Homo sapiens: one gene and its partner. The protein of the gene in region 2 purifies or fractionates together with the protein of the main gene of each other region. This does not show direct contact. Each region holds a gene or a part of one and is shown on either strand. Other genes may lie near its edges.

What was found.
Region 1: the proteins of NOCT (region 2) and NME6 purify together in Homo sapiens (affinity purification with mass spectrometry; one large-scale study listed by BioGRID and IntAct). This does not show direct contact.

Annotation. Positions count from the first base shown.
Region 1 is NC_000003.12:48,291,817-48,295,410, forward strand, and holds the end of NME6 (nucleoside diphosphate kinase 6), read right to left. Parts: intron 3,420-3,594; coding exon 3,259-3,419; intron 2,988-3,258; coding exon 2,821-2,987; 3' UTR 501-2,820; downstream 1-500. UniProt on the Homo sapiens protein: Major role in the synthesis of nucleoside triphosphates other than ATP. The ATP gamma phosphate is transferred to the NDP beta phosphate via a ping-pong mechanism, using a phosphorylated active-site intermediate. Inhibitor of p53-induced apoptosis.
Region 2 is NC_000004.12:139,022,236-139,026,053, reverse strand, and holds part of NOCT (nocturnin), read right to left. Parts: intron 1-3,818. UniProt on the Homo sapiens protein: Phosphatase which catalyzes the conversion of NADP(+) to NAD(+) and of NADPH to NADH. Shows a small preference for NADPH over NADP(+). Represses translation and promotes degradation of target mRNA molecules.

The DNA of each region.
Region 1 (3,594 bases), on a different chromosome or scaffold from region 2:
AGTGCAGTAGCACTACCTTGGCTCACTGCAAACTCTACCTCCTGGGTTCAAGCAATTCTTCTGCCTCAGCCTCCCAAGTAGCTGGGACTACAGGTGCGTGCCACCACACCCAGCTAATTTTTGTATTTTTAGAAGAGACGGGGTTTCACCGTGTTAGCCAGGATGGTCTCGATCTCCTGACCTTGTGATCCGCCCGCCTTGGCCTCCCAAAGTGCTGGGATTACAGGCGTGAGCCACCATACCTGGCCATCTAAACTTAATTATCTCCCAAATGTCCCATTTCCAAATATCATCACATTGGGGGTTAGGGCTTCAACATATGAATTTTAGGGGGATATAATTCAGTCCATAGCACTTTGTCTTTTGGTGGACCTGGGTGCTGGGTGTGGTCATTACTATTGGAGTGTCATTGCTCTCACATCAGTGCAAAGGACTATACATACAAAAACATATTTACATCTATCTCTATAGACTGAAATACACGAGTTCACACTGATATCTCCAATTCGACACCACAGGGTTTATTCTAGTTTTCTCCCTTTCCATATTTGTGGGAGCCAGGTTTTTATGAGACAATTTTATTGGGAGATAATTCTGTGTCTCTTGTGGGTGTCTTAATTGTCAGATTTTGTACGCTTTGACCACCATTTAAATTTTTTAAATGCAACAAAATATCAATTTTGTTGATACTTTGTGGGCTGAGATGTTGACAGATTTTGTTCCAGACTATTTCAAGGATTTTTTTTTTCTTGAGATGGAGTTTCACTCTTGTTGCCCAGGCTGGAGTGCAACGGCGTGATCTTGGCTCACCACAACCTCCGCCTCCTGGGTTCAAGCGATTCTCCTGCCTCAGCCTCCCGAGTAGCTGGATTACAGGCTCGCGCCACCACGCTTGGCTAATTTTTGTATTTTTAGTAGAGACGGGATTTCTCCATGTTGGTCAGGCTGGTCTGGAACTCCCAACCTCAGGTGATCCGCCTGCCTCAGCCTCCCAAAGTGCTAGGATTATAGGTGTGCCACTGTGCCCAGGTATTTCAAGGATTTTTGTACAGCAAATGGCCTTAGAAGACAGAGATAGTATCTCCCTAAGATTGTGGTTCCTTAGCCGTCATGCAAACCTGCAGTGTGTAACACTTTCCTGGGCCTGCCAGTATTGCCCTGTGGGACTTGGAGGGCAAGGGAGACCAAGGCTAACACACTGCCTGCTGTGCCCTGAGCAGTAGTCTCTGCCCAAGTAATCCTGTGTTTTCTGCCAGCATTCATGAAGCTGGCTCCCTAACACAAGAAGTTGTTGAAAGTTCTACTCAGCTTCTTAGCTGCCTCTTCCAGAATCAGCAGGTGCCCTTATGGGAAAAGTAGCTCTAAGTCCCAGGCTCACTTCTCTTGAGTTTCCTTCGTGTCCTGAATTTTGGTTCTATATTGCCAGCTGATGCTTTCAGATAGATGCTGTTTATATTTTGCACAGCTTTTCTAGTTGTTCTCTATGTTCAGTGGGTCCAAATTTCCTGGTCTACCATTAGTGAAAGTGGCAGATGGTGAAGGCAATTTTCAACTCAAAGGTTTCAAGGCCACCAAAAAGAGAAATACACATGTACTGAGAAAGAAAAGTCAAGACCTGTAAGAAGTGTCACAGGTTTCTTAGGTCACACATACAAAACTGACCCATATATTCCTGAAAATGAACAGACTGTCTAGTGCCCCAGACCCCTGCTATGGATACCCTATTTGACCTTCAGGCTTAGTTCCAAAGCCAGCTATATCTTTTATAAAAGACTTTCCACCCTATCTCCTTCACCTCCTCACCCAGCCAAAGGAAACCTTCTTTCCTCTGTTCTCCCACAGGACTTTATACCTCTGTTAGGGCACTTCTCCATCTCTGCCACGTTATAGCTGGCTGACCACCCAAATTCATAATTAGCAACTTGAGGACCCAATCATGTCTTAACCATCTTTGCATTTTTCAGTATGTCTTGAATAGAGAATTTATGAAAATAAATGTTTGCATAAGCTGATAAAGGAGATGAAGAAAAACACACAGAAGGAGAAAACCAAGGGTGTGGGATCAGAAAATCCAAGAGAAGAGAGTGTTTCTGGAGAATGAAGCAATAACTGAATGCTGCTGAGAAGTCAGAATGATGAAGCCTGAAAAGTTTCCCCTAAATGTGGCAGCATAAAGGATTCAGGAGAACACTGACTTTTATTGAGGAAGACAGGTCAAATGTTGTTTGGAGTCACTGCATTTTTTAGGCAAGTCAATTAGACAAGCTTCTTTTTTTTTTTTTTTGAGACAGAATGTCGCCCAGGCTGGAGTGCAATGGCACGATCTCGGCTCACTGCACCCTCTGCCTCCCAGGTTCAAGCAATTCTCCTGCCTCAGCCTCTGAGTAGCTGGGATTACAGGCATGCACCACCATGCCTGGCTAATTGTTGTATTTTTAGTAGAGATGGGGTTTCACCATGTTGGTCAGGCTGGTCTCGAATTCCTGACCTTGTGATCCGCCTGCCTCGGCCTCCCAAAGTGCTGGGATTATAGGCGTGAGCCACCGTGCCCGGCCTGGCAAGCTTCTTCTTGAAGAAGGATGAACAGTTCTCAGCAAAGAGGAGTCATCATTCTTCTGAACCACCATAAACATTCCAGAGAAGAGGTAGATAGAAGGCTAGATCCTGGAGGATGTGCTGTGGTGAGCTAGGCCCTCAGGCAGGTGGTGGTGCCCAGCAGAAATGGCACTGTAAGCCAGGCTTCCCTGGTCCTAGGAGAATGTTTTAGACTAGATGTCTAGGAGAAGTCTGGGCACTACCACTGGTCTTCATAGACCTGCATCAGGCTGGTCCTAGGCCTCCTGTTCCAGCTACATAGTGGACACCTCCCTCTGGGCTATAGCACACAGGGCCACAGCGCAACTGGGGCTCTTCCTCCTCATACCAGCGCTGTTCACTGAAGTCAGGGAAGAAGGCTGCAATCTCTCTGCTGGCTGAAACCACAGAGTCTGTAAGGGGAGATAAGACAGAGAAGGGGTTCTCACATGGTAGAAGCAAGAGGCAGTCATAATCAGGTTCAGAATCCTGAGCCTCTACTCTGCCTGCCCCTTCAGTCCTGGGGCATGTAAAGAAAGTCCACAGGCCACATCTGCCAACATGGCTACAAAGACCAGAAACACAAATGGAAGAAAGCTCACTGGAGGGACCTGGCTGTCAACTCTACCACACAGCCTGCCCGCTAACCCCAAAATATCCTATGGCTATGGACAGGGGACTCACCCGAACCATGGGTGGTGTTGCGGGTGTCAGTGAGGCCGAAACTCCCACGGATAGAATCTGGGGCCACATGGCGTGCTCGGAACACTCTGGTGGGTCCCATGAGCGTCCTCCAGAGCTGGATGGCATCCTTGTGGGCAAGGATGTAGGCTCGGATTGGCCCGCTGTGAACAAAACAAGCACATGTAAAGAACCTGGCCATCTAGACTAGGAGGGTGTGCTGTGAGCAGGGCCTGAATAAAAACACACTCTACGTTCTGAGAGTTTTCCTGCCTTTCCAGCTGAGTACCAATGCTGCTTCAAATAGGTGATGCAGGGCCCCTGCTGGTGTACATCAAG
Region 2 (3,818 bases):
TTGTATATATATCATAAAACCAATAAAAGATGTTTAGTCACTTAAAAAGGAGGGGAAACAATTTTCATATACAAATTCCCAGTGCATTGCTTGAATAGTTAAGGCACATATTAAAAAAAGAATATGTTGCATATCATTGGGCAGGTTGGTTCTAGGCCAAGACAGCAAAGTAGAAAATACATTTACTTTCTCTCCTTCCTAAGATCTTGAAGAAATAAAGTGCCTATATTTAAATTTTTTTTTTTTTTTTGAGACGGAGTCTCGCTCTGTTGCCTAGTCTGGAGTGCAATGGCGCCATCTCGGCTCACTGAAACCTCTGCCTCCCAGGTTCAAGCAATTCTCCTCCCTCAGCTTTCTGAGTCGCTGATGGGATTACAGGCACCCGCCACCACGCATGGCTAATTTTTGTATTTTTAGTAGAGACAGGGTTTCACTATGCTGGCCAGGTTGGTCTGGAACTCCCAATCTGCCCGCCTTGGCCTCCCAAAGTGCTGGGATTACAGGCGTGAGCCACCGCGCCTGGCCTCTTTAAAATTTTTTAAAGAATGCATCAATAACATTGGAAAACAAGAAGGGATGCATGACATCAATGGAGCAAATATTTGGAGGAATTCCAAGAAGACAGAAACAAGTTTGAATTAACAGAGAAACCAGAAGGAAAGGGCAGTACAAGTTACCAAAGGTAAATGTGGTTTTCCCAAGAGCACCTTGAAGAAACTCCAAGCTGAATCAAGAAATAGAAAGGGCAGGAGAAGCTGAGGGGGTAACTGTTAGGGCAATTCGTTCAAGAATGAAAGTGAACGGTGGCACTAGTTACATGTGTCCCCTCTCTCACAGACAAAGCCGGGAAGGGTGGCTTTTGGTTGCTCCATAGAACCAAAGAATACCCCAAAGAAAATGGGTGATAGCCTTAGAATGGCTTGCAAAGGTGAATGGACCTGAAAGAGAAGCAGACCAGATCAGGAGCTAACTCTGAAACTCAAGGATGGTTTTAAAAAGCGGGGAAGGGGTTGGACTGAAGAATATAGAAGGAAACCCTCCTTTCTTTGACAAAGGCGGTAGTTACCAGCCTGCTCCCTCTCACGCATTCAACAAGGAAGCCTGGCTGCCCGTTCTCCAGATTACCTTCCCACTCAGAACATGCAAAACTGGCTGGGCGCGGTGGCTCACACCTGTAATGCCAGTATTCTGGGATGCCGGGGTGGGCCGATCACTTGAGCTCAGCAGTTTGGGACCAGCCTGGCCAACACGGGGAAAACCTGTCTCTACTAAAAATACAGTAACTGTTGTATTACTGGGCCAGGCATGATGGTGCATGCCTGTGGTCCCAGCTACTTGGGAGGCTGAGGTGGGAGGAGTGCTTGAACCAGGTTGATGGAGGCTGCAGTGAGCTGAGATCACGCCACAGCACTCCAGCCTGAGTGACAGAGCGAGACCCCATCTCAAAAAACAAACAAACAAATAAAACAACATGCAAAACTCCCTTCCTCTCCAGGAAAGAGGCCTAAAGGAGAAACAGGCACACACACATCTTGATATATTTAAAGTACGAGAGACATTATAGACACAAAACAGGTTTCTATGAAAAAAGGAGCAATTAAACAACTAGAAATGTCTAGGAATTTAAAATGACTGCAGAACAAAAATTTTCAGAAAATCTCATGCAACAGAGAAGAGATAAAAACACTAAAATATGAATGGAGGCCTGGCTAGGTGCCTCATGCTTGTAATCCAGTACTTTGGGAGGCAGAAGCAGATGGACTGCTTGAGCCCAGGAGTTTGAGACCAGTCTGAGCTGAGACCCGTGTCTCTACAAAAAAATAAAAGTAGGTAGGCATGGTGGAGCACACCTATAGTCCCAGCTACTTCAGAGGCTGAAGTGGGAGGATCACTTCAGCCCAGGAGTTGGAGGTTACAGTGAGCTATGATCACACCAGTGCACTCCAGCCTGGGTGACAAAGTGGAGACTCTGTCTCTAAAATAATTTAAAAAAAAAAAAAAAAAAAAAGGATGAATAGACACGGAGGATAGATCCATATGGCCAACAATCTAACAGGAGTTCAAGAACATGAGAACAAGAGACAATACAGTAGACAACCGATACAAACTTTTAATGTGCTAAGGCATGTCTTTAGATTGGATGGGCGCATCAGATGCTGAGACATTCAACCTGATGGATCTTTTGAATACCAAAGATAAGGAAATCTTGTAAGCTTCTACAGATAATCAATACTCACAATGGTCTTTAAAAGTTCAGAGGCAAGGCCGGGCATGGTGCCTGTAATCCCAGCACTTTGAGAGGCCGAGGCGGGTGTATCACCTGAGGTCAGGAGTTCGAGAACAGCCTGACCAACATGGCAAAACCCCGTCTCTACTAAAAATACAAAAAATTAGCAGGGCATGGTGGCAGGGGCCTGTAATCCCCAGCTACTCGGGAGGCTGAGGCAGGAGAATCGCTTGAACCCGGGAGACGGAGGTTGCAGTGAGCTGACATCGCGCCATCGTACTCCAGCTTGAGGAACAGAGCAAGACTCCATCTCAAAAAAATAAAATATTAAACTAATTCTAGAACTAAGTCTCAGAGAGTCTATTTGACCTACAAGATTTGAAAGATAAACATTTTCCTTCAGCAGACCTTCAATGATAATTAGCATCCATAAAAGCAAAACACACAAGAGGAAATAGAAAAGTATTATATCCCAGGTATTATTAGAATCTGCAGTGTAACTTACTTTGCACCCTGTACTAGACAAGATATTTGCAGTCACAAGCATATTTGCAGATCGGCAAACAGAGCTGTTTAAGTACTGGAACCTCAGAGTTGGAGGAAAGATAGAAAAGGGAAAGGAAGACAGCTAGAAAGGATGCATCAAGACCAAGGAATTTCCCAGATATCCTTCCGGAACAATTCTTATTGTCACTTTGGATGCATCATAACTTCTTTTTTTTTTTTGAGATGGAGTCTTGCTGTGTTGCCCAGGCTGTAGTACAGTGGTACGATCTCAGCTAGCTGCAACCTCCACCTCCCTGGTTCAAGCAATTCTCCTGCCTCAGCCTCCCGAATAGCTGGGATTACAGGCACACACCACCAACACCCGGCTAATTTTTACATTTTTCATAAAGATGGGGTTTTTGCCATGCTGCCCAGGCTGGTCTCGAACTCCTAACCTCAAGTGATTCCCCCCACCTCCTTGGCCTCCCAAAGTGCTGGGATTACAGGCATGAGCCACGGTACCCGGGCAGCATCGTAACTTCTAAGCACTTATTTTCATGGACTTGCCAAGAGCTCAAGAGCAGCCTGGGCAACACAGTGAGACCCTGTCTCTACAATAAATAAAATAAATATTTTCCTTTCTGCACAACTCTCCACAATCCAACAGTGGTCTCTAACTTTTGGACAGGAGAATCACATCACTGAGAGACTTAGAATAGGCTTCTAAGCATTTAGTAAAACGAGCCTCCTCACAGGTGTCCGCCTGTGTTGTCAATATGTGGCTGTTGTCTACCCGGAGCCTATGTCAGAATCAGCAGATGCTCAGGCCCCACTTGGAGATATTAAAATCCAGAAGATCTGAATGGGACCCACGCATTTTTTTATATACTGGAAGGAGAAAAAAATTGTTATAAGGACATTCAAATTGGATGGTACCAATTTTGTTTAGCCTTCTTTCCCCTGGGCACTGTTGCCCACATACCTGACACTGAATTCTTGCTAAGTATTAATATATGATTCAAGTGTTGCTTTGAGGCCACATAGATACAGAGGACAGCTAAGGTTTTCACTTGAGGTCTCACTCCCTCCGTGGGAAGGCTGATTT